7 linked regions of the Homo sapiens genome follow. The protein of the gene in region 1 interacts with the protein of each later gene in a biochemical or structural test. Each region holds a gene or a part of one and is shown in the gene's direction. Other genes may lie near its edges. The genes, in order: KHDRBS1, NPHP1, SPATA13, TSPOAP1, DOCK3, ARHGEF4 and DHX9.

Region 1 (3,255 bases):
GGTACGTGGTACACCAGTAAGGGGAGCCATCACCAGAGGTGCCACTGTGACTCGAGGCGTGCCACCCCCACCTACTGTGAGGGGTGCTCCAGCACCAAGAGCACGGACAGCGGGCATCCAGAGGATACCTTTGCCTCCACCTCCTGCACCAGAAACATATGAAGAATATGTAAGAAATTTGAACAATGTGCCATTTCCCAGTACCTAGAAGGCTGCTAAAGGAAGTTGAATGACAGGGCCTCGGTCCTTTATGTAGGTGTCATGGACTGCCTGTAAGATTTGCAATCTGCCCTCTTCTCTTGCAGTGAATGTTGAACTATTAGAAGATTTTTCCATTTTAGGCAGGGTTTTACTATACGCCTGTAGATTAAACAAGAAATAAAATGTACTTTAATGTAGTATTTTATAATGAATTTCTTACTACTAGTACTGATAATACTAAAGCTCGATTTTGTACTTTACTTCCTGCCCACACTTCTTCTGTGGCATATCATATTTGTTTGGGTTTTCTTTGTTTAGTAACCCTTTCTCTTTTGACTATTCTACAGTAGGCATTAACATTTTGGAGGGAAATGTCATGTCCTTTTAATTCAGAAGCCTACTTACTCCCATGGGATGTAATTACCTTTCCTACTCTCTATGATTTTGATCTTTTATTTCATTTTTTTGTTGTTGTTGTTCTAGGGATATGATGATACATACGCAGAACAAAGTTACGAAGGCTACGAAGGCTATTACAGCCAGAGTCAAGGGTGAGTCAGGCAGTATAAGCACTGTTTTTTGTCCTGAGGATGGATGGAGGGAGTTGGAGGAACAGAGAGATTTAGACAGTACAACCCTAAGGAGCAGAATGGTTCGCCTTTTGAGGGTATCTCCTCTGCAACCCCCACAGTCCTGACTGGTCTTGAACTCTTGAGCTCAAGCAGTCCTCCCACTTTAGCTCTCTCTAGTAGCTGGGGTTACAGGTGCGTGCCACCATGCAATGCTTTCCTCTGCGTTTGACATCTGTGAAGCACACACTTGGATTTGTAAATCTGGATAACTGTGAACCTTAAATTATAATTTAGAACCTGAGAGTAACAAATGAAAAATTTCCAAGCTGTGACTACATGGAAACAAGGAGAAATGCCTTTATGTTATTTTGATTTATTATTTTAAAATATCAAAACCACATTAAAGCTCCATAAAATTTTACAAGAAACTTGAATTCCATTACCATAACTTAGGTTCTTTTCTGCATTTCTCTTTAAGACCATTTCCTTGTGTGTCCATATATATAGCTTACCTGTGAATTGATTGAAAAAGAGTTCCAGAATTCTACAGCAGTGATAAAACAGTTCTTTTTTCCTTCTGGTGAGCCCTATGAATACATGTATATATATGCTATATTAAAAGGGTCAATTTAGGATTGTGCTTTTTCACTTTATATTCTGTGGTATCCATTTTTCTTTGCAATAGTTGTCAATTATTTTATAAGTACATAGTCTATACATATTTTGGAAATACTTTACGGTTTAGGGATGGGGCAGAATGAGTATTTTCCTGTATTAATACACTTAGTAAAATGACTGACTTATGGAAGTATTTGAGAGAAAGTTGAAACATAGTTACTCTGTAGCTTCCTAACACTCTGCCTTTGGCTTTCAGGGACTCAGAATATTATGACTATGGACATGGGGAGGTTCAAGATTCTTATGAAGCTTATGGTATGTCTTTATCTCTGTGGTGGGGCAGAATGTACAAGTAAGTGCCTGGGAGAATGCTGGTGACTAAAGTATTGAGAGTCAGACAAACACACCTACGGATAAACCTTTAGAAGGCCAAGATTTTGCTAGATGTGACAGTAAGAGTTCTGCTCTTGCTTAAATTTTGCGGTACATGGTAGAAAGAGGGACTGCTAAAGTGAGGTGGGGTATCGTTACTCTTGGAAGGGTAGTGTTTGTCTTAAACAAGGGCTCAAGACCAGCTTGGCCCTGGTTGGAGCAGCAGACTTATAAGCTAATGTTATTTTTTTTCTACTTTAGGCAGGGAAATAGCTAGACCTGGGTTGTATTTCTGGGCCTTTGCTGCCGATATCTAGGCCACTTTGGTAGATAACAAGAACTTAATCGTACACAACTGTACTCATCTACCCCATTTCATTAAAAAAAAAATTTAGATCTCATTGAAAAGAATGTCATTGTAAAGGAAATGTCAGCTGAAAGGGACCTAGATGGCAAGCAGCTAGCCAGACCAGGTTGCGGGGCAAGAATAGTGCCTATTAGGGCCGGGCGTGGTGGCTCATGCCTGTAATCCCAACACTTTGCGAGGCCGAGGCAGGCGGATCACCTGTGGTCAGGAGTTCGAGACCAGCCTGGCCAAGATGGTGAAACCCTGTCTCTACTAAAAATACAAAAAAATTAGCCAGGTGTGGTGGTGGGCGCCTTTAATCTCAGCTACTTGGGAGGCTGAGGCATGAGAATCACTTGAACCTGGGAGGCGGAGGTTGCAACGAGCTGAGACCGTGCCATTGCACTCCAGCCTGGGCAACAAAAGTCCGTCTCAAAAAAAAAAAATAGTGCCTATTAGAATCAGATTAGAGGCTGTAGGGGCTAGAGCCAATAATTCAGGACAGTACTGGCACCAAGCTCCTTGTTGGCTTGAAGACATCAACACAGTCCTTGATCCCAAGAGAGCTATGGAGGCTGCAACAGCAGCAGGACAAGGCTGCCTTCCCTGAGGTTTGGTTAAAAACACATCGCTCAAGTGTGTCCTCAAGAGCCAGTTATGGCCCTGTGTTAATAGGCCTCACTGGGAATACTATGTGGCAGTGGATGCAGCGAGAGCTACCTTTTCAGTATAAGGTATTTTCAGCATACCTGAGGGACTTCCAGAGAGTCCTTGGCAGGGGCTCAGCGATTGACAGTTCACGCTAAGATACTGGTTGACAGTCTCCCCTTATCCCTAGCTGAAAAAGAGGAGCCCCTTAGGGCCTCCCAGAGACAGACAAGCTGAGCCCAACTCAGCACAGTATGAAGTAGCCAATCAGCTGCTTGCCCAAGGAAACTGTTTTTACCAGTTTTAGCGAAATAGCACTGGACAGTTGCCAATCACTAACACTGTGTGTGATTGCACCCAAGTATTTCCCTCCATCAGTGAGGCAGTACAGTGGGGCCTCTGTATGTGTTTGACTAAATTGCATTTCTGTTTTGCTGGAGAAAAGACCAAACTGAAAGAGGCAGGCTTCTCTTTGTGCTCCTGATACGACGTTGCCAC
Region 2 (3,500 bases), on another chromosome or scaffold:
TGGCAACACAGGGTTGAGACTCGAAAGTGTAAACAAATATAAAAAGTTATCTGAAATTTAATGTGGCCTACTTGTAGTAGAAATTTTTCTTTAAATAGTTAAAAATGTGTTCCAGTAATGAAGCAAAATTTGGGACTGTTTATTAAAGTAATATACATCAAAACATTATAAGTTGGATTGTAGGGGATTGTCTAATGAATACATTTTTTTCTTCTTTAATAGTCTACTGCCAGAAACATTAATTGGAAATATGTGTTCTATTCACTTGTTGATATTTTATCGACAAATTCTTGGAGATGTGCTCCTGAAAGACAGGATGAGCTTGCAAAGTACTGGTAAGTGGGCTTTGCCACTTCCTTATGTGCAGTAATGCTTCATACTCTGAGTAAAGGTAACCTATACCATCTTGTATCTTCTGTTTCTGGTTGTGACTTTTGGAATAAAATATTTAGAACAGCATTGATGTTAATACATTACTTATGGGACATCTTCAGATCCAAAGCATTGAGCTTTGTGAACTCGACACATATTCAGTTCTTTCAAACATATGTATTTTCACATTTCAAATTCTAGAGTTTTGAGATCCCAAGAGTCAGATATAGTCATATTTTCCCTTAATGTCTCTGAGTAATCTGTTTTTTCCCATGTGTTTGGTATGCACATAATCATTTTGAAGAGAAACCAAAATCAACCAAAATAGCTGGTTCTTAGTGCATGAAGTATAAGTATCAAATGGATTAGTTTAAATTGGTGAATCCAGATATGGAGTATTTGGGTGTCCTATGTACTGTCTTTATTCTTGCAACTTTTTTGTACGTTTGAAATTTTTACCAAGTAAAATGTTAAAAAATAAGTTTAAAAATCAATGAGTCACCATACATGATTGAACCTGCAAAGATAAATGCATGTGTTATAGTAATTGCCTTCAAAAAGAAAAGCAGTTTAATTGTATTGGCTCTTCTTTCAGTTCAATAAATCAGTAACCAGATATGTACTGAGTACCTGGTATGTGCCAGATATTATGCTAGGCCCAGTGATGAATGAGACAGGCATAGGCGTCCCAGGCCTCAAACACATAATTTCATGAATAATCCTCTCCACCCTTTTGAAATAAGTGCTGTGAAGGAAAATACACAACGAGAACATGCACTGGGAAGACTTGATTAATGTGTAGGGTAAGGAAAGGCTTCTTTGAGTGAGTAATATTTAACAAAAGATGTGAGAGAGGAATTAGACCTATGAGGGAAGTGTGTGGGGAAGGATTCTTTCTGGGTAGAGGGGCCAGCATGTCTGAAGACCCAAGGAAAGAAGACATGCATGTGTTGGAGGGCTTGAAATTGAGGCAGGCCAGTATGGATGGAGCAGAGTGAGTGAGAGGCTTAGCACTTGTGGACAAATAACATTCATAGGCAGGAGTCCTCTCCCAGGGACTTATCACCTGGATAGATAGGTAGAAGTGGAACTCAAAGGCAGAGAAGCGCAGAAAGTTCTCAAGGAATCATTATAACTCTAAGGGGGAGGACGGGTAAGCCTTTTAATCACCATTGCCTTTGAATTCATTTTCATGACTCTTGAGAAACTTCATGAATGATGTGACCTCTTAAAGAGGATAAGGCTTGTTAGTTTTCCCAATAGGTAAGAAGTTTACTCAGAATTGTTGACTTCATTTGAATTTAATCATTAGAATAAAATATCCTAATAATATCTAAAGAATGAATTTTTCTCTACTGAGGACACCAGATTATAGAATACCTTGCCCTTGCCATTTCAAAAGTGTCTGCTATGGTTTCAGTGTGTCCCATCTAAAATTCATGTTACCAATGTAATGGTATTGAAAAGTGGGGCCTTTGAGTGGCGATTAGGCCATGAGGGCTGTTGCCTTATGAATGGGATTAGAGACCCTTACAGAAGGGCTTGACAAGGGAATTCGTCTCACCCTTTTGCCTTCAGCCACGTGATGGCACAGTGTTCCTCCCCTCTGGAGGATGTTGTAAGAAGGCCCTTACCAGACACCAAATGCCATTACCTTGATCTTGGATTTCCCAGCCTCCAGAACTTGGAGAAATAATTTTATTTTGTTTATGTTACCCAGTCTCAGGTATTCCACTACAGCAGCGCAAACAGACTAAGACATGTCTTTCCTGATGTGCTTCTTTGCACAGATTTTTCATGTGCTGTTATCTATTGTGAAATGTCAATATTCTCCCTCACTGTGTTTGGTCATATGGCCAGAATCCTCAATTCCTAATTCTTCCAGTTTCACCTACCACTGTCTGCTGGCTCCAGACACAAGTTTGGGTCCTTCCCTGAGCGCTGGTGGCCTGGAATCAGACCTGAGCAGCAGGTCCTCTGTCTCCTTTCCCCCCAATGCTTCCTAGTTTCTGCTCAGTCTCCCAAGAGCAGGGCTACCTCTAAGGGGAAGATTCCTTTTACCATGCCACAGCCATAAGGAAGAAAGAGAAGTTGAAGAAAAACACAGAACAAAATTTTCTAGTCTTATTCTGTTCAGAGCCTCCTTGCCCTTACTCTAAAAGCTCCATTAATTTGGTACAGGAACTCACCAGGATATGGGTATAGGGGCAAATGAAGGTTGAAGGGACAGCTTTGAGCTCTCCTAGAAGTCAAAGTGTGTAGAATGTGTTATCAACAAATCATTTGGCACAATAATTTTCATCTGAATATTTTTGTGTCTATTGCAATAAAATCCATTGAGTGAAGTTTGCATAAAATTCTTTCTGTTGTTTTGCATTTCAGATTTAATTAGCCATCCCATGCTGGCCACCTTCCCCATGCTCTTGGAGCAGCCTGATGTGATGGATGCTCTCAGGGTGGGTAGCATGCATTGCAATGGAAACCTGCTGGCTTATGGAAGCAGTTATACACTCTGTGTTAATGAGTTCTGTCTAGGCCTTTTTTTTTGTTACTAGGATGATGTCTCCCAATCCCTATCCATTGTCTAGGTAACTCAGTCCTCATCTTTCCCATCTTAGCATAAATTCCCAAGGGCTGCCTTCCCTGACCCAGGGAGCAGGTGGAGTGCCTGCTATGTACACTATTGCAATCTTTGCCCATTTTTTCCTTGACTTAGGATGGCCACTGATTGTGTCCTAAGAGCAAAAATCCAAAATGGTCTGTAAGATAAATCAATTGAATTTGCAGGGGAGAATCAGGGCATGCACATCATCTTTAATTCCATGTGTGCTGTTTGCTGTCTGAAATAACTGTTGAGTGTTATGTTAAATCGTATGAAATCTCCAATTTTCAGCCATTTTTGGCCTAAGTGGCAGTTTCATATGGTTTAGCCTAATACATCAGGGTCAATAAGTAGAAGAGCTGCATGCATGCAAGGCAGATACACAGGTAACATCACAAGTGCCATGGGGGAGGTATAACCCAGGACCTTGAAGATTTAAAGAAGGCAGCAAAGAAGGATCCAAATTCTGTTTCACTAGAGAGGTCCTGCATGAGAGAGCCTAATAAAGGCCAGGGCCAAGAGGATT
Region 3 (3,500 bases), on another chromosome or scaffold:
AAATGGCATATTCAAGGGAAAGCAGCAGGACAAAGTTGGCTCTAAGGCTTCTCTGGTTCAGGGCTCAATGCCTGGCCCTATAGCTTGGTAGGTTGACCTCTCTGTTTGCTGCTGGAAGCAACAAAGTTTCTTTCCCCTTCCTTTCCCTTGAGCTAAGAGGCATTGGAAGGTTTCACTTAGAAGGGGAACTCATCAGTGCTTTCCTTTCTTTTTTGTCTGAAAACTAAACATTTAAGAAATGTTTGCCTATGAGACATGTAATAGCATAAATGGGATCATAACATCACAGTGGTATAAATTCAAATGTTTTAGAAAGAACTATCATTGTTATTTCTAAAACACCAGGAATGAACACCAAATGTACATGGTTTTCTTGAGGGAAACTATATAATACATGGCAATTTGAAAATCAGTACCTGGAATGTTTAATTGTATTTTACATTTGTGGAGAGAAATGCATTGGTACAAAGTGCTTACCTGATTTTCCTCATCTTTGCATCACAAATGAAAGAGCAGTAAAGGGGGAGCATAGAGTAGGTTGCTGTTTTTCTGTTGGCCTCTGCTGTACCCACATCCTTCTCTGGACTCCCACTGAGCCCCCTTGCTCCTGCCTCTGCTCCCTCCATGTTTAATGCCTCTTTTGGCTCCCCAGGGAACCTGCAGGGTATTGTTGAATTGTGATGCTCACCTCCTCCATACCAGCCTGTCTTGACAGAATGAAACCCTGATGCCCTGAGGCAGGCATCCTATGTGATGGCTTCATCACTCCCTCCTAGGATGAGATGGGTGATCAGGTACCATCCTGGGGAGAAGGGAGGAAGCATTTGCGTGAGGTATCCTCTGTGTTCTGTGGTTTAGGTGAGGATGGTTATAACTGAGGAGCAAGTCAAGTTTCATTGCTCCCTAAATGAGATGGAGGTTCAGGGAAGCTGTCGTGGCCAGAGCCCCATAGTAAGTGGCAAGACTGAGACTGGACCCCGGGCTGCCTGGCTTAGGAGATCCACCTGCATCCCTCGGTGTGTCTGTCTTCCCTCTAACCTGTAACTCCCTGAGGCAGAAACGGCACCACAGAACCTTTCACAACATCGATAGCTCCTGTGTGCTGAGCTGAAGGTGAAGCTGGAGAGGAGAGACCAGGGGACCAGGGGACAAGAGCCTGAGGGCTCAGAGGAGTTCCCAGTCCAGCCGTCGCGCTAACTTCGGGGTTGTGGACGATGCCCTCTGTGCCTGCAAGAACCCTGGGGAGCTGTGGCAACACCGCAGAATGCAAGGAGAATGGCGTCTGTGTTTCCTGTATATGTATGTGGTTGTGGCCATGTGCTGTGGTCAGGATGTCAGCTTCGGTGGACACAGGTAATGGCTGTCCTGTGGTCATCATGTTCCAGCATCTCGGAAATGGGGCTGTTGCTTCAGTGAACCAGGACCTTAAAGGACCTGACTTCTTGGTGAGCAATCACTTCCACCCATTTCCCTGAAGCGGGACTGCCCTAGTCTTTGTGGAATCACGAGAGCGCAGACATTGTCACTTGAGGGATTCTGTGCCTGCCTCAGACTGTCTCCCACCCCAGCATGCCAGGTCTGCCCTGAAGACCCACCAGCATCCATCTGCACCCTCCAAGAGGACTCTACCTGTCCAATCCAGGAGAGGGGAAGGGCCAGCCTTTCCCCTCCACCCCCATTCATACCAGAGCAGGCTTTGTTTCTTAACACTGGCAAGCTCTCCTTAGAGAGAAGTAGAGCACAGGTCCGAAATGGCCAGACTGGAGAGTTTCAATGGAGGGAGGCAAGCTGCCTTCCTGGGTTCCTGGGCCACCCAGTCTCCTGCCCTCTTCTCCTCTCTCAGCCCTTCCCGGTTGCACCCCCCACCCACCCCAACTCCAACTTTAGCAGCAGGAAAGGGGACATCTTTACTCACTGTCTGGGACAGATGCACGGGGAGGGCAGGCTTTTATTGTCTTATTCCAATGGGGGCAGGAGGCTGGCAATGAGATGTGTTGTGGTATTGCTGATCAGAACGTTGATCACATCTTTTGCAGAAAATGTTGCTCTGTGTGATAGGAACAGTCCATTGTACTTGAGTGTTAATGCGACAATTCAGTCTCATTACACAGGATTCTTAGGTCAGGCCCTAGCTCTTAGTCACCATGGGTGATGTAGAGATTGGTAAATGTGCCCTGAGTCCTAAACAACTTGCACATGTACTTTTAAACACATCCGGGTTGTGTGTTGTGACTCTATAGCTAAAAGAAAAATAGCCTCTGGTTCAGAAATGTGCTCCACTTCCACCCTTCCTGGGGGGTGGAGTGCTCTTCTGTAACGTATAAAAGTCTTTCTCATTCATCAGGAATGGCCTATTTAGGGATTTATGTGGATTTGCAGATTCTGCTATCACAAGTGTAATACCGATGATACTTCATGCTGGTTTGTAAGCATAAATGTATATGTAATACTTACTGTGTATCTTTTGTGTACTAGATGCTGAAGATGGAGAGATTGATCAGAGACAGTCCCATTTTCATGAAGAGACTCATATTCTTGTCTAGAGGGAGAGGCCCATATGTAAAAGCAAAGCAGTGAAAAGTAGTGAGTGTGGCAGTCAGTTAGGGGAGAAGATGAGAGTTCAAAGATCCAGGAAGGCTTCCTGGAGGAGGAGCTGAGTCCAGTGTGGGCTGAATCCTAACAGAGGAGTGAGCAATTAGGGAAGGAGCTGACAAAGGAAAACCTTCTAGCCCTGGGGGACGGCGTAAACAGAGGTGAGGAGATGGGCTCCAGCTTGGTGACTTGAGGGACCCTTGAACATCTGTATCACTATAGCCCCAAGCACATCAGTCATGACTGAGTCTGTGTGCCTAGGGCATGGTTCTAGCATCAGCAACACTTGGGGGTTTGTTAGGAAAGTAAATTCTAGGGCTCCCACCAGACCTATAAATTAGTTCTGTGAGTGGGGCCCAGCAATCTGTTTTTTAACATGCCTTCTACATGTTTTTCAACCACAGAAATATTTGAAAGCCACTGTTTTAGAGCATATGCTTCCTGGAGGCTCTGAACAGCTACTCTCCATGTCTGCCTCATAGTATTTGCAGAGAATGGTAATCCTCTTTTATGAGGGCATTAATCTCCTTCACGAGAGGGGAGCCCTCATGATTTAATCAGTTCCAAAAGGACCCACTTCTTCACATCATCACCTTGGGGTTTAAATTTCAACATCAAAATTTTGGAGGGACACATACATTCAGACCGTAGCAGTTCCCATCTCTCAGAGTTTCAAAACCTTTGCTGCATGTTTGAATTACCAGGGTGCCTTTAAATACATTGGTGCCTACTCTTACCTTCAAATGTTATGATTGGTTTGGGGTATGACCTATGTGTTGAAATTTTTGAAAGCTTCCCAAGCGTAGTCAAGTTTGGGAACCACTGTCATAGGTGAGGATTCCATGAATTGATCCTTGTAAAATGCCAGAGTGTCCTGGCCATCACGCAGGAAGTGCTTTGTGTGTGTG
Region 4 (3,500 bases), on another chromosome or scaffold:
CCCTTTCCTCTGCATAGCTAGTAATGGCTTCAGGACGCTGACTGTGATGCCATGTCCAGGGTTACCTGCCCTGATGCTGACGGGAGGCCCTCCTCTCGCGGGCTCCTCAGCCAACTCCAGTCCCCTCTACTCCATTCATCTACTCGCAGGCTGGGGCTGGGGCCTCCCCTCCTGCCCTCCCTCCCACTGTGGGGGTGTCTGAGGTCTCCAGCAGGCTGGGCCGAGGCTCCGGGAGAGGAATGCTGTGCTCCTGCGCTGCTGTGCTGCTTACGCTGATGGGGCAGAGCTGGGGGAGCACGAGCCCACCAGAGGGATGGTGTGTTACTTTTGCCATCTGTTGCCCTCTTTTTGCAGGCAACAGAGACCGGAGAGGCCAGAGGGCAGGACGGCTCTGGGCGGAGGGGCCCCCAGAAGAGAGGTGTCCGAGTCCTCAGGCCAAGCACTGCAGAGCTAGGTGAGCACCTGATGGGGCTGGAGCTAGAGCTGCTCGGCCAGAGCTCGCTGCGTCACCGCCCTCTCCACTGTCTCCACAGTCCCTGCGAGGAGCCCCTCAGAAACACTGGCTTACCAGCACCTACCCGTCAGGATCTTTGTGGCTCTGTTTGACTATGACCCCGTGTCAATGTCGCCCAATCCTGATGCTGGAGAAGAAGAGCTTCCCTTCCGAGAGGGTCAGATCCTGAAGGTGACTGATTCGCCATCAGGGCTCAGAATTCCAAACACCAGCTGGGTCTTCCCTCCTCCCTCCTTTCCTCCACTGGAGGTAGCACAGAATCATGGTGGAGAACATGGCTTCTAGAGCAGATGACATGGGTTTGGACCTGACTCTGCTGCTTCTAGCTGTGTAACCTTGAGTAGATTACCTAGGCCCCCTGGGCCTCAGTTTTCTTTTTGGTAAAATGGGGATAATATTAGTGTCTACCTCACAGGGTGTTTTGTGGATTAAATGATCCAATGTACATAAAGTGCTTAAACTGCCTGAGACATAGGCAGCACAATCTAACTATCTGCTGCTGACATTACTATTTTTATTACTCCTCCAAGTATTGATTAAAGGCATTTTGCTATTGCTCTGAGACTAAGGAGATCCATTCTGGGGTGGGCAAAGGGCATGGCCATGTAGACAGTGAATGGGGATAATACAGAAAGGGCTGTCTTCTCCTATCCCTCTGATCCTGTTCTTTGCTGTTTTCCCCCTTTTCCCATTTCATGGCATACAAAAGGGAGAACATTCTTCTGCATTTCCAAGTGGGGTGTTGCTGGGGTTCGGGGCCTAGGGGCATAGGGAGTGAGCAGAACTGGCTGAGACCACTGGTTTTGCCTCCAGGTGTTTGGGGACAAGGATGCCGATGGCTTCTACCAGGGCGAAGGTGGGGGCCGGACAGGCTACATTCCCTGCAACATGGTGGCTGAGGTGGCTGTGGACAGCCCTGCTGGGAGACAGCAACTGCTCCAGCGGGGTTATTTGTCCCCAGATATTCTCCTTGAGGGCTCAGGTATGACCTGCTGCTGTCCCTCACCCACCTCCCACCAGCCCCCTTCCAACTCCACCTGACCCTGAGCAATTGTTGTGTCTGGGGTGCTCCCACTTACCCAGACTCTAGCAGAGCCTTGGAGCCTGCCTTGAACCCTGCTGCGTAGTGGTCAGACTGTACGTGGGCTGGCCGCGTGGAGTGGGCGTCTGTTGCAGAGGGGAATACAGCCATGCAGCCAGGAATTTTGGGTCCTGGAGGTTGGGTGGGGCTCTTGTCAGGGATGGGAGATGAATGCCCTTACGAAACAAGCTCAGTAACCTAGCACGGCCCTGAGAGGAAACTCCAGAGTCCCAGTCCTGTCTCTCCCACCTCCCCTGCCTCGCTTTCTCTCTGCTTTTCTGGATCAGGGAATGGTCCGTTTGTGTACTCCACAGCCCACACAACTGGGCCTCCTCCCAAGCCCCGCCGCTCCAAGAAAGGTGGGTAAGACCCCATTCTCTCTCAGGTGCTGGGAGGATGTGTGTGCGGTGGGGTGGCGCTGCTTGGCTGTCTGTTTTCTCTCAGGTGCTGGGAGGATGTGTGTGCTGGTGGGTGGCGCTGCTTGGCTGTCTGGGGAGGCACCTCTGGGTTTTTGAGCAGGTAAAGGGAATCGGCAGACCACCCACATCCCCTGCCTCCCCCCATGGGGGGCTTTGTTCCGGTGGGGATGAGGGATGGTTTGTGGAGCTCTCTGTTCCCACAGGCACCTGACTATAAAATCCGTGAATCCCAGAGCGTGCCATTTACCCTTTCTGGGTGTTAGTTCACTGCCACACAAAAGGGTTGGGGAGATGCGCCCTCGGCAGCCTTCCTTGCCTGCCTCCTTGTGTGTGGGCGAGTGTCTGGCCTGCGCTGCAGCACCTGCAGCCTGGGTGGGCAGGGTGGGAGGGGGCTCACAGGCACATTCTTTCCACAGCTGAGTCGGAAGGCCCTGCCCAGCCCTGTCCAGGTGAAGGAATATCCCTGGGCCCGGGAGGCTGGGGAAGGAGATAGGGTGGGTGGCCCCTCTGGCCTCGCCCCATTGGCTACAGCTAGTGGGGAGGTGGTGACAGGGGGTCAGCAGGGGTCCGGGGCAGAAGACAGGATGGGGTGTAGGGCTCTCCAGAGAGTCCAGAGTCTTCTCCTACTCCCCCTGCAGGCCCCCCTAAGCTGGTCCCCTCTGCTGACCTGAAAGCTCCCCACTCCATGGTGGCTGCATTTGACTACAACCCCCAGGAGAGTTCCCCCAATATGGACGTGGAGGTGAGGACCCTCAGATAGAGCCCAGCAAAGGGCGGTGGCAGAGCCTTCCTGGGCCTGATGCCCTCCTCTTGTTTTCCACAGGCAGAGCTGCCCTTCCGGGCAGGGGATGTCATTACTGTGTTTGGGGGCATGGACGATGACGGTTTCTACTATGTGAGAACATTGTTGGGGAGGGTGTACCATATCCCAGCCCCCCAGACTTCGGACAGGGGGATAGGCAAGGAACCCTCAGGAAGTCCGGAGGAATGGAACGGGTCACCTCCCTGGACAGTGGTTTTGGCCCCAGCTGTTCCCCAGGGGCATCAGAGTCGAGGGGCAGGGCCAGAGCCTCTTTCCTGATCTCAGTCTCACCGGCCTCTTCTCTCCAGGGGGAATTAAATGGACAAAGGGGCCTGGTTCCATCCAACTTCCTGGAGGGCCCTGGGCCTGAGGCAGGCGGCCTGGACAGGGAACCCAGGACACCCCAGGCTGAGAGTCAGGTCAGTGAGGAGCTGGGCTCCCAGCTTGGCAGGGCAGTCTACCCTACTGGTGGGGTGGTAGGGCCAGGGCAGTGTTGCGGCAGGGGTGCAGCTGGGGTGGTCATGCAGGTAAGCACTGTGTCCAGCGTGCAGCCGCTAATTGACCACCAGAGGGGAGCCCCACCAAGCAGCTGCCCCCCAGTATGTGCCCCTCTCTGCAGAGGGATGATAGCTGTGACCCTGACCCTCAGGCCATCTCGCCAGCTGCCAACACCTGGTGGCTGAC
Region 5 (3,500 bases), on another chromosome or scaffold:
GGACATTATCCTTTCTGAGGGTCAGTGATAGGCCTGTCAGTGTGCCTGGGACTCTCACTTAGGTAACCCCATGTCGATTCCCAGAGTAGTCTTAATGTTATCATTATTACACAGATAAAGAAACTGGATCCCAAAGGTTGTTAATTTTTTTTTTTTTGTCCTTCAACGATTGTATATTTTTCTTAATTTTCTTCTTGGCAGTGGGCAGTATTTTGTGAAATACTTGACTGTCTTGCTTTCTTTTTGTGGTACTGTAAGGTACTGTTCTTTACTGTACCCGTTCGCCCGTGTTTTGACTTCTTATGTCCCTTTCCCTCTTAGAGAATCTCTGCTTTCCTTTCTGTTGCCATGAATGCTTGGAAAGTCCTGCATCCTTCCATTCTTTATTCTACCTTTCCAAGAAGCTTCCTGCTCTAAAGTGTATTAGGTGAGAAAAATCCAGCTATTTTTGTGAAACACCTGTCTTTCCCTATACTGACTGTACCCAGAGTACCAAATATAGAATACAAAAACCAAGAAAATGCTTTTCTCACCCTCTAACAGGAGCAACAGCAGGAGCAGCAAGCACCAACAGTTTTTAAAACAAAAATGTTTGTAATTACACTCCTTGAATAGAAAAGTGGTAAAGGTTTGAGTACATAGGTATTAGTTTGACGTCTTAGAAGTGGAAGCTGCTTCAGAAGGTCATCTTGTTTATTCTGCTGCTGTCATTAGGCAATTTTTTTTTTTTGAGAGGTGGGGTCCTGCTCTTGTCATCCAGGCTGGAGTGCAGCGGCATGATCATAGCTTACTGCAGCCTTGAACTCCTGGGCTCAAGCGATCCCCCTGCAGCAGTCTCCCAAGTAGCTGGGACTACAGGTGTTTACTACCTTGCCTGCCTAATTTTTTTTTTTCTTTTTTTGAGACGGAGTCTTGCTCTGTCGTCCAGGCTGGAGTGCAGTGGCGTGATCTCGGCTCACTGCAAGCTCTGCCTCCCAGGTTCATGCCATTCTCCTGCCTCAGCCTCCCGAGTAGCTGGGACTACAGGTGCCCGCCACCATGCCCGGCTAATTTTGTTTTTGTATTTTTAGTAGAGATGAGGTTTCACCATGTTAGCCAGGAGGGCCTCAATCTCCTGACCTTGTGATCCGCTCGCCTCGGCCTCCCGAAGTGCTGGGATTACAGGCATGAACCACTGCGCCCAGCCTTGCCTGGCTAATTTTTAAATTTTAATTAAAAAAAATTTTTTTTAGTGACATGGTCTTGCTATGTTGCCCAGGCTTGTCTCAAACTGCTGGCTTCAAGCTATCCTCCCACCTCAGCCTCCCAAGTCACTGGGATTATACCTGTGAGCCACTGTGCCCAGCTAAGGCAAATTTTTGAGTAATTTAGGGCATTTATTGCTTATTTTTTATTAATCCCTCTTAGTAGAACATGAAAAATTTTTCTCATTACCAATCTGAAGACCTTACATTTTAGTTTTGTAATGTTATATTTATTTTTTCCTATTTAAAAAGTAATGCGTATTTTATGCATTATTTTTACCTAACTTCCTTTTGGTTAGGTTTCTCCAGATAGGGAAGAAAAGCACTTAAAAACAAACAAACAAACAAACAAACAAATCCTGAGTCCTTAAAAGAAACTTGTAAAGATCCTGTGGTGCAGGAAAAGAATCTGAAGGTGGGGAGGAAATAGATCCTTGAAACCAGATCTGGAAGAATTAGTGTTCACAAAATTTGAGTAAATCTGTTGGTAAATGGACTAGAACTCACCAAAATAGTCTGAAGACAGTGTGCTCTTTAGTTATTTATTCAGTGAGGGAAGCCCAACCTTTGCAACCTCTGGAAGGGCCCCAATACCCCTTTAGAGGTAAAGACATCATCCACTAGGGGTAGGAAAGATTTCATAGACCTATGACTTTATTTTGTTCTGAAAAGTGAGGATGTGCTTGATGTCTTGTTTAGTGTTTATGGGGAACTTCCTTATTCATGATTCTACTTGAGCTTTACACTATATCACCACCTCTCCCCTCTTTTTTAAACAGATGAGAAAGAAGCTTTAGCTGAGAGAAATTAAGTAACTGATCTAAGATACTTTAGATAGTAAGTGCTGAGTTGAGATTTGAACCTAGGACTTTGAGATTCTAAGCCACAGATTGTATTATTACACCGTGTCCTCTGAAAGGAATTGTCAGTAGTATATGACTGTGGCTTGAAAGATAAGACATACTCTGCAGTTTTCAATTTAAACTGGATAGTTATATTTAAGGAATTTTATTTCTGTATTGGACTATTTTTTTCTTTTTCTTTCTTTTTTTTTTTTTTTAGACAGAGTCTTGCCGTGATGCCCAGGTTGGAGTGCAATGGGGTGATCTCGGCTCACTGCAACCTTCGCTTCCTGGGTTCAAGCGATTCTTCTGTCTCAGCCTTCTGAGTAGCTGGGATTACAGGTGTGCGCCGCCACACCTGGCTAATTCTTTTCTATTTTTAGTAGAGACGGGGTTTCACCATATTGGCCAGGCCGGTCTCGAGCTCCTGACCTCAAGTGATCTGCCCGTCTTGACCTCTCAAAGTGCTGGGATTACAGGCATGAGCCACCGTGCCCTGCTTTTTTTTTTTTTTTTTTTTTTTTAAGACGAGGTCTTGCTATGTCACCCAGGCTTGTGTGCTATGGCATGATCGTAGCTCATGGTAACCTTGAACTCCTGGGCTCAAGCCATCCTCTCCAGTAGCTAGGACAACAGGTCCATGCCACCATGCCCAGCGAATTTTTAATTTTTTTTTTTTATAGAGACTGGGTCTTGCTATTTTACTCAGGCTGGTCTTGAGCTCCTGGCCTCAAGAGACCCTCCCTCCTGGGGAGTGGCGGGTTTACAGGTATGAGCCACTGTGCCCAGCCTGTTGCCTACTTTTTAATGGGATTATTTGGTTTTGCTGCTGAGTTCCTTGTATATTCTGTATATTAGTCCCTTATCAGATAAATAGTTTGCAAATATTTTCTCCCATTCTGTAGATTGTCTCTTTACTCTTTTTCCTTTGCTGTGCAGAAGCTTTTAGTTTAATGTAGCCCCATTTGTCTATTTTTGTTTTTGTGGCCTGTGCTTTTGAGGTCTTAGTCATAAAATCTTTGCCTAGACCAATGTCCTGAAGCATTTTCCCTATGTTTTCTTTTAGTAGGTTTATAGTTTTGGGTCTTATGTTTAAGTTTTTAATCATCTTAAGTCTATTCAGTAGACTTCAGATTTCTAGTTCGTTTTATCATGCAGTATTAGAATATGATTTAGAAACATTAAGCTAAATTGTAAACATGGCACCTATTTCTGTGTAGTATTAGATGCATTCTGAAGCAGGGCAGTCTCAAAAGAATGGTCATTGAGGTTGAAAGTACTTTAACCTTCATAGCATATTTTTACATTGGTGCTAAATTTTAATTTTTAATAGTTTGTATTTTGAATTTTTTAAAATTTTTGTGTCTTTATTCTTTAAGAATGATCTGAAATTATTCCCAACATGTAAGCATTA
Region 6 (4,261 bases), on another chromosome or scaffold:
GTGAGGTTTAATTTCTCACGTACTCTCCATGGCAACCCCACCAGGCGGTCATTCCTCTCGAATGTTAAAGATACGTGTTTAGAGCAGATGATCATGATTACACAACTGGTGTGCAGCACAGCCAGGTGCCCAGATCCGAATCCCACACCCTCCTCCCACCACCATGGGCCTCAGGGACATGCTTCTAGCACAGTCATGGACCCTGAGTGACATAAAGGCTGTGACAGGGGACGCAGGATCTTCAGATGGCCCCACAGTGCCTCCTCTGAGTATCTATCTCCCAAGCTTCTCGCCTGGCCTGGTTGCTGTGAGGGCCTGGGGAGAGGCAGAGACAGGTTGGGTGTACGGAAAATGCACACTCTGCCAGGCACCCCTGACACGCACTGCTGACCAGGCATAGCGTTCAGTGGGGCTAGGACTTGGACGAGGGTGCAGGCTTGAGCAGGGGTGCAAAAAGCCAGTCTGGGCAGATGCTCTCCCTCTGTGGGGCGCCGATCTCAGAAATGGTGGACAGAGCAGGGCTGCAGTATGGTGCACATGGGCCTTGGGGTCTTAGCTTTCGTGGGCCTCTTCCTGCATAAAATAAAATAGTTAAAATTAGAGTTTACAACTGCATTCATATAAAGATGAATATACTCCAGGCTAGATTCATTATTATTTTATTATACTCAGTTTTTTTCTTCTGATTTAAAATAGTGCGGTCCTAGGGCTGGTTAGAGTGTTTCCTGGCAGGCCCTGTCTCCTTAAACCCCTGCAAAGAAAGCAGCGAGGACTTCCCTTTGCCCCTTAGCAGAAAGCTGCGCTCCTTAATGGTTACGGGTGTGACCATTCACTTACATCCTATCTGCAGGACATACCTGGAAAGGTAAGTGGGAGGCAAGAGGGAGCTGGAGGCCAAGACTTCGGTCCCAGATATCCTAGTCCACATTTGTCCCCACCAGGTGTGTGAGTGCCGGCGCGCTGCACAGCCTCCCTGGGCCTCCGTTTCCTCAACTGGTAAACAAGAACGCTGGGCGGACTGAACTCTGAAAGTTCTGGGAGCTTGACAATCAGAACTCTCAGCAGAGAGGCCGCCCCTGCTCTCAGGAGGGCGGAGGCACCTGAGTCTCCAGTGCGGAGGACAGGCCGAAGCGCTGCGTTGGAGATGTGCAAATGCGCAAGAAGCGTGCTGCTTTCTCTCTGAGAAAACACTCCTAGGCTTCAAGGGGGCCCAAGAGCTCGACTGGGCGGGATGATCCCGGCGGCCCCTGGGCCGGGTCTGTGGACGGCTCTGCTGTGTGCCTGTGCGTGCCCAGTCCCGCGGGTGACCAAAGCCCAGGGGCGGGCAGGGCAGGAGCCTGGACCTCACGTGCCTCCAGTGGCCAGGTTTGCGGGGGCGGAGCGTCCGGGCGAGGGCGCGGGGGCGGACCCTAGGGCGGGGCGCGGGGTGGCGTCGGTGGAGCCGGCTCGGCGGCGCGGCTCGTAGTGCTGCGGCCGGGCTCCGGGCGTCCCGGCGGCCACCATGCTCAGCGTCGTGCACTTCCTCCGGAGCTTCTTCAAGGTGAGAGCCGGCGTCCGGGACTTGCGGTCGGGCTCCCGGCGCCCTGCGCGGGTGGGGAGGAGCACAGCCCGCGCTGGCTGCTGCGCCCCGGGCCGTCCCCTGGGCACCCGGTGGGTGGGGACACCCTCGTGGCTCCCCGCCGCTCCCAACTTTCCGACGTGCAGACCGGAGGCGGCGTCCTGCAAAGTGGGGCCGTCTCGAGCGCGGGGAAGGACGGGGCTCCGTTGGGGGCGGTAGGGACGGCGGCCCGGGGCGAGCCCCTGAGAGGGCAAGGGCGAGCGCCTGAGCCGGCCTCCCCGCACCTGGACCGTCCTGGGCGCGCGGGGCACTCGGAGCCGCTGCCTGGACCGGCCTGGGCGCGCAGGGCACTCGGAGCCTCTGCCGCTTGGCGCAGTACCAGCTGTTTTGGGAAGGAGGGCTGGTGCCGGCCCGGTGGGTACGGGAGAAGTGGTTGCTGTTGTTATTCCCCAGGCTGAGAGTACGCGAGGGCGCAGCAGCGGCAAGGGGCTGGAACTGGGGTCGGGGCTGTTGGGCTCCTGCTCGGGGTGCCCCCTCTCTGGCCCGATTTCCGGGCCCGCTCACCATCCGGGACCCACTCAGTTGGGACGCCTCCACCTCGCTGCCCCCACAGGAACCCCAAGATGGGCCGGGGGCTCCGGGGCACTGTCAGGGGTGGCCGGCCACAGGTTGCCAAGCCCGACCTCCCCAGGTGAGCCAGCGGGAGGGCGGTTGCGACGCTGGGTGGTGCTGAGCTCCGATGGGCTCCTACTCCGGGAGCAACTGCATGAAAGGAGAGGCGGGGAAGAGCCACCAGCTGTCAGCTGCAGGTCCAGGGGGAGGCAGACCTGTGTGGGGCTGTCGGGGCGGGAGGGCGGGAGGGCGCCCTACTTGGCTGTGCAGCCATCTTCTCCCGGAGTTGAAGACGGGAGGTTGAGGTCGGAGTTCTGTGGCCCTGAGAGCTCTAGTGAAAGGGGCAGGAAGCCAGGTGACCCAGGGCAGACCTGCAGGAGCCCTGCCCTCAGCCTATCCGCTGGCCTGGCATCAGCTCCCACCCCCAGCGATAACGAAGTGATCGCTGGCATCAAGAGTGGAGAGGGCCGGACAGCCGGGAAGGCAGCCTTTCAGGAACCTGTGCTGGTGAGTGTAGGAGATGGCTTGGAAGAGCTCAGACCCCCTTCAAATGCCGACTCTGTCATTGAGGAGGTGTACAATCTTGGGACAATCACATAACCACCTGGGTCTTTGTTTTGAAAAATGTGGGTGATGTTTCCATGCCCTCCACACCTTTCAGGGTTAGTGTGAAGGTCTTATTAGAAAATGTGAGTGTGGCCCGGCGCGGTGGCTCATGCCTGTAATCTCAGCACTTTGGGAGGCCGAGTGGGGGGGGCGGATCGCCTGAGGTCACGAGTTCGAGACCAGCCTGGCCAACATGTCAAAACCCCGTCTCTACTAAAAATACAAAAATCAGCCGGGCGCGGTAGTGGGCGCCTGTAATCCCAGCTACTTGGGAGTCTGAGGCAGGAGAATTGCTTGAACCCGGGAGACAGAGGTTGCAGTGAGCCAAGATAGCACCACTGCACTCCAGCATGGGTGATAGAGCGAGACTCCGTCTCAAAAAAAAGAAAAAGAAAAGAAGGAAGGAAGGAAGGAAAGGAAGGAAGGAAGGAGGGAGGGAAGGAAGGAAAGAAACGTGAGTGTGTTTATGAAGTGGTGAGCCCTGGACCTTGGTTCTGCTGCACCCACAGCAAGGGTGGCAAGGAGTTGCCCAGGTGAGGGGAAGATGGCCGGACAGAATCCAAGATGCCTGGGCAGAATCTGAGTCACCCAGCTGGCCCCAGAAGCTCCAGGAGCAGGTGGAGTGTGGCTGGAGGAGAGACCACTGGACATCTCTGGGCAGCCACCTTGCCTGCTGCTGCCTGGGAGGCTCCTGGGATTTGGCCTTTGTGAAAGTATTCCTGACACACACGGTCCTCCAGTTCCCCATCTATTCAGAGAGGCCTTTCCATACTTTCTGCCTCAGGTCCCTGTAGGTCCTGAGACACCTGAGGCCTCCCCATGCACACCACAGGAAGCATCACCTGTGCCCCTCAGAGGGTCTCCTTTCTGCTGTCCACATGGGAGGGGCTCTGACTGCCACAGCAGTCCACTTCTGGCTGTGTGAGTGTGTCTTGCCGAGCCACCGACAACGTAGTTCATACTTGTTCCTCTCAGACACTGGTCGTAAGGAATACCCCGTGAGGACACAGGTTGTGGGGTGGGCAGAGGAGCTACGTGCTTCAGTCACCGCCTGGTGCCTCCTGGTGTCCCCAGGGATTGGTCCTATGAGGTACCCCTGATGATGGGTGCTGGACTGGGCCAGAAAAGGCCACTTCATTCTGGGAACCTCAGATTGTCTGGGTCTCCCAGTCAGACTCTGTTAGCCAAGATGCAGCTAGTCTCCACCAAGCCCAGGAGGAGGACCCCAAGGCCCCAGGTGTGCCTTCTGGTGGCACTTGGTACAGACTCTGTACAGCACACAGATCTGCTTGGGCACGTTGGGCACCGTGGGATCCATGGGGCATGACAGTCGTGTGGCAGAGTCCCTCCCCGTGCAGGCAGACCAGTCGGAGAGCCTGCACCTGCCAGGGGCCCACACAGGTGCGCCGCCTTGGGGGTCACCCAGCAAATGAGTCAGAGGAGCAGCACACCCAAAAGGAAAATATGTTGTCTCAAAAATCCAGA
Region 7 (3,500 bases), about 150 Mb from region 1:
CATGTTGTATATTATTTGAAGTTTATATACTTCATTTGTTCTAGGGTTGGGCAGAAATAAATGTTGGTAATTTTTTTTTTCTGTGATTTGCCTAAGCAGTTGGAAAGCCTGCCTGACTTGGGAGACCTGGATTTGCTGGTTTCTAACAGTGAAATTTCTAACCTTGCTTGTATATGTTGTTACAGGAGCTTTATTGCAGAAATGACCATTTATATCAAGCAGCTGGGCAGAAGTAAGTGTTACTGTTTCCCCAATATTCCAAGTCTCTGTATAGAGAAGGAATCTTCACATTTTAAGTCTTGAGTCACGTATACAGAAGCTGTATTATTTGAAAGAGCACATAATGTAAGATAGCATCTAGGGTATATTTTAGAATATTAGTAATTATATAAATTAGAGGCAAAGTCTCCCAGTTTGCATGTGAAAACAGACCATGTTAGTGTAATCTTTCAAAGGTAAGACACAGTGGGATGATTAGGAGTCTGCCAGTGTCAATTAATTTTAAACCTTTTTTGTTTTTTGAGACGGAGTCTTGCTCTGTCGCCCAGGCTGGAGTGCAGTGGTGTGATCTCGGCTCACTGCAAGCTCCGCCTCCCAGGTTCACGCCATTCTCCTGCCTCAGCCTCCCCAGTAGCTGGGACTACAGGTGCTGCCACCAAGCCCGGCTGATTATTTTTTGTTTTTAGTGGAGACGGGGTTTCACCATGTTAGCAGATGGTCTCTATCTCCTGACCTAGTGATCTGCCTGGCTCAGCCTCCCAAAGTGCTGGGATTACAGGCGTGAGCCACTGTGCCTGGTCTTAAACATTTTTTCATTTTTATATATACAATGAGTTATTTTGAGTGGATGGATAATACTAAGGGAGAGAGGATAAAGGCAGGCTAACTTCTGTCAGCTCACTTACCTTATCGAGGTTAATTTGGCTAGTTAGGCAGAAAGATACCTTTGTACCCCTTTGCTTTATATTCATCTCTCCTAAGGATGAATGATACAGGAGGAGAGGAAACTTTCTGTTAATATTTTCTATAAGGATATGAGTAACTTAGCTTTAGTTTAATGCTAAGGTCAGCAAACTATAGCCCTCTGGCCAGATCCAGCGTACTGCCTGTTTTTATAAGAACTGTTTTATTGTAACATAGCTACACTCACATTTTAGACTTTACAGGTCACACATTGTTATTCTCATTTTATTTTTACAACTCTTGAAAAACGTAAAGCCATTCCCAGTCCTATGGTTTATCAAACTCTGTTGTCAGTGACTGCTTTCACACATTAAAGGCAGAGTTGAGTAGTTGTGACAAGATACTATATGGCCTGCAAAGCCTAAAATATTTATTAATTGACCGTTTATAGAAAAAGTTTCCCAAATCCTGGTCTAGGTAACCACTCTGGACCCAATTACTTTTACTGGTTTATTTTTTACTCTTTGTCTTTTCAAACTATGTTTTCTTCCCCATTTTAATGTCTGATATTAACAGTGACAACTTTGTTGAAATAGGTTATTTGCTTTCATAATATTGATTTGTATGAGTCCTAGTATCAGCCAGTAATCAAAACTGTTGGTTATTTAGTTGATAAGCTGTTTGGCAATTTCTTTTGTTTAGCAGATATTAATAGAATAAAAAGGAACTAGAAGCCATGGCATACCCTGTATTTTAGGGCTTCTTGTGTACGTAAGCCCATAGTTTCTTGTGATAAGATGTTTCTTTACTCAGATGATTTCTTTCTGTCTGATAATCCTGACCTTACATTATAGGGATTTTTGCACGAGAACATGGATCAAATAAGAAATTGGCAGCACAGTCCTGTGCCCTGTCACTTGTCAGACAACTGTACCATCTTGGAGTGGTTGAAGCTTACTCCGGACTTACAAAGAAGAAGGAAGGAGAGACAGTGAGTCTTTAGATTTAATAGACTTGTGAGATAGTGTGAGATTCAATTTAGCTCTTGTTTAGTGTTTGGCTGAAGAAGTTTAATTTTAAGAATCTTACCTCAGGAAATGAAAATGGCCCTGCTAATCATCTCTGTGTCTGGCATGATGTTCATAATAGGCAGTGAGTAAATAATCATTGAAGTAATTCTCTCACAAAAGGGAACTGACTATTGGTTTAGGAATATTGTAGACCTAGTGTTGACTGTATAGTCTTAGCCCCATTATAGTAGATTTGAGTAGTGTTGTTAATGTGTGATCCTTTTTCCATAGGTGGAGCCTTACAAAGTAAACCTCTCTCAAGATTTAGAGCATCAGCTGCAAAACATCATTCAAGAGCTAAATCTTGAGATTTTGCCCCCGGTAAGCATAAAGCTGTTTAGTTCACATTTACGTAGAACTCTCCGTAGACAAGCAAATCATATTTTTTGTTTGTTTTTCTTATTTTTTAATAGCCTGAAGATCCTTCTGTGCCAGTTGCACTCAACATTGGCAAATTGGCTCAGTTCGAACCATCTCAGCGACAAAACCAAGTGGGTGTGGTTCCTTGGTCACCTCCACAATCCAACTGGAATCCTTGGACTAGTAGCAACATTGATGAGGGGCCTCTGGCTTTTGTGAGTGCAATATTGTTTTTGAGATCAGAGTCTTGTGTTTTACTCTTGAGACTATATTTGATTAGTATGTCTAGGTAAAAAATGGATTTATTTTGAAGCTGAATTATGTGCTTTTGTTTGACTATGTTGGCTTTTTGTTTTACAGGCTACTCCAGAGCAAATAAGCATGGACCTCAAGAATGAATTGATGTACCAGTTGGAACAGGATCATGATTTGCAAGCAGTAAGTCTGAATTATTTAGACAAGTAGTGCTCAGAGCTTCAGAATGTTCTAGGTATGGGTAAAAAGTCAATGAGCAGTACATTTTGCCCTTTTAAGGAGGGCATATCAAAAGATATGTACCAAACTGCTAATCCTAGTTACCCCTGAAGTTAGTTGCTATGAGTTGAGGGCCTGTGAGAGAATTTCACTTCTTAATGTAATTTAATAAAAGTGGAGAGATTTAAGGCAGTGACTCCTTTTGTTGTTGGTTTTTTTGTTTGTTTTAGTGTTTTCCAAATAAAAAATTAAAATGTTAAAAAGAATGCGTGTGCGACTTTCAGGGACAATGAGAATTTAGTTTTTGGACAACATCAAAAGATACATTCTTCAGAAGTGTAGTGAAAAGAAGTAGTTCTATTAGAGATATAAATATACACATTCTTTTTTGAAAAAAACATTTTCATCACTAAGCCAATGGAAATGAGTAAGTTTTTATAGAGATGGAAGTTTGGTTTTTTTGTTTGTTTTTTTCTTGAGACAAAGTCTCGCTTAGTTGCCCAGGCTGGAGTACAGTGGCTCAGTCTCGGCTCACTGCACCCTCCGCCTCCTTGGTTCAAGCAATTCTCCTGCCTCAGCGTCCCAAGTAGGTGGGATTACAGGCACACCCCACCACACCTGGCTAATTTTTGTATTTTTAGTAGAGATGGGGTTTCACCATGTTGGCTAGGCTGGTCTCGAACTCCTCACCTC

What was found.
Region 2: the proteins of KHDRBS1 (region 1) and NPHP1 interact in a test that uses a peptide from one of them, tested with the Homo sapiens proteins (one study listed by BioGRID).
Region 3: the proteins of KHDRBS1 (region 1) and SPATA13 interact in a test that uses a peptide from one of them, tested with the Homo sapiens proteins (one study listed by BioGRID).
Region 4: the proteins of KHDRBS1 (region 1) and TSPOAP1 interact in a test that uses a peptide from one of them, tested with the Homo sapiens proteins (one study listed by BioGRID).
Region 5: the proteins of KHDRBS1 (region 1) and DOCK3 interact in a test that uses a peptide from one of them, tested with the Homo sapiens proteins (one study listed by BioGRID).
Region 6: the proteins of KHDRBS1 (region 1) and ARHGEF4 interact in a test that uses a peptide from one of them, tested with the Homo sapiens proteins (one study listed by BioGRID).
Region 7: the proteins of KHDRBS1 (region 1) and DHX9 form a complex in vitro, tested with the Homo sapiens proteins (one study listed by BioGRID).

What each region holds. Positions count from the first base shown.
Region 1 is NC_000001.11:32,037,868-32,041,122, forward strand, and holds part of KHDRBS1 (KH domain-containing, RNA-binding, signal transduction-associated protein 1), read left to right. Parts: coding exon 1-169; exon of another isoform or gene 170-252; intron 253-684; coding exon 685-752; intron 753-1,647; coding exon 1,648-1,706; intron 1,707-3,255. UniProt on the Homo sapiens protein: Recruited and tyrosine phosphorylated by several receptor systems, for example the T-cell, leptin and insulin receptors. Once phosphorylated, functions as an adapter protein in signal transduction cascades by binding to SH2 and SH3 domain-containing proteins.
Region 2 is NC_000002.12:110,128,514-110,132,013, reverse strand, and holds part of NPHP1 (nephrocystin-1), read left to right. Parts: intron 1-222; coding exon 223-335; intron 336-2,754; coding exon 2,755-2,828; intron 2,829-3,500. UniProt on the Homo sapiens protein: Together with BCAR1 it may play a role in the control of epithelial cell polarity. Involved in the organization of apical junctions in kidney cells together with NPHP4 and RPGRIP1L/NPHP8. Does not seem to be strictly required for ciliogenesis.
Region 3 is NC_000013.11:24,163,720-24,167,219, forward strand, and holds part of SPATA13 (spermatogenesis-associated protein 13), read left to right. Parts: intron 1-3,500. UniProt on the Homo sapiens protein: Acts as a guanine nucleotide exchange factor (GEF) for RHOA, RAC1 and CDC42 GTPases. Regulates cell migration and adhesion assembly and disassembly through a RAC1, PI3K, RHOA and AKT1-dependent mechanism.
Region 4 is NC_000017.11:58,304,796-58,308,295, reverse strand, and holds part of TSPOAP1 (peripheral-type benzodiazepine receptor-associated protein 1), read left to right. Parts: intron 1-354; coding exon 355-454; intron 455-533; coding exon 534-685; intron 686-1,327; coding exon 1,328-1,496; intron 1,497-1,882; coding exon 1,883-1,954; intron 1,955-2,430; coding exon 2,431-2,463; intron 2,464-2,652; coding exon 2,653-2,756; intron 2,757-2,837; coding exon 2,838-2,909; intron 2,910-3,124; coding exon 3,125-3,235; intron 3,236-3,500. UniProt on the Homo sapiens protein: Required for synaptic transmission regulation. It probably controls the recruitement of voltage-gated calcium channels to the presynaptic membrane, and modulates neurotransmitter release.
Region 5 is NC_000003.12:50,677,927-50,681,426, forward strand, and holds part of DOCK3 (dedicator of cytokinesis protein 3), read left to right. Parts: intron 1-3,500. UniProt on the Homo sapiens protein: Potential guanine nucleotide exchange factor (GEF). GEF proteins activate some small GTPases by exchanging bound GDP for free GTP.
Region 6 is NC_000002.12:130,835,453-130,839,713, forward strand, and holds the start of ARHGEF4 (rho guanine nucleotide exchange factor 4), read left to right. Parts: upstream 1-1,461; 5' UTR 1,462-1,501; coding exon 1,502-1,540; exon of another isoform or gene 1,541-1,542; intron 1,543-4,261. UniProt on the Homo sapiens protein: Acts as a guanine nucleotide exchange factor (GEF) for RHOA, RAC1 and CDC42 GTPases. Binding of APC may activate RAC1 GEF activity. The APC-ARHGEF4 complex seems to be involved in cell migration as well as in E-cadherin-mediated cell-cell adhesion.
Region 7 is NC_000001.11:182,856,347-182,859,846, forward strand, and holds part of DHX9 (ATP-dependent RNA helicase A), read left to right. Parts: intron 1-185; coding exon 186-232; intron 233-1,757; coding exon 1,758-1,894; intron 1,895-2,204; coding exon 2,205-2,294; intron 2,295-2,386; coding exon 2,387-2,548; intron 2,549-2,693; coding exon 2,694-2,771; intron 2,772-3,500. UniProt on the Homo sapiens protein: Multifunctional ATP-dependent nucleic acid helicase that unwinds DNA and RNA in a 3' to 5' direction and that plays important roles in many processes, such as DNA replication, transcriptional activation, post-transcriptional RNA regulation, mRNA translation and RNA-mediated gene silencing.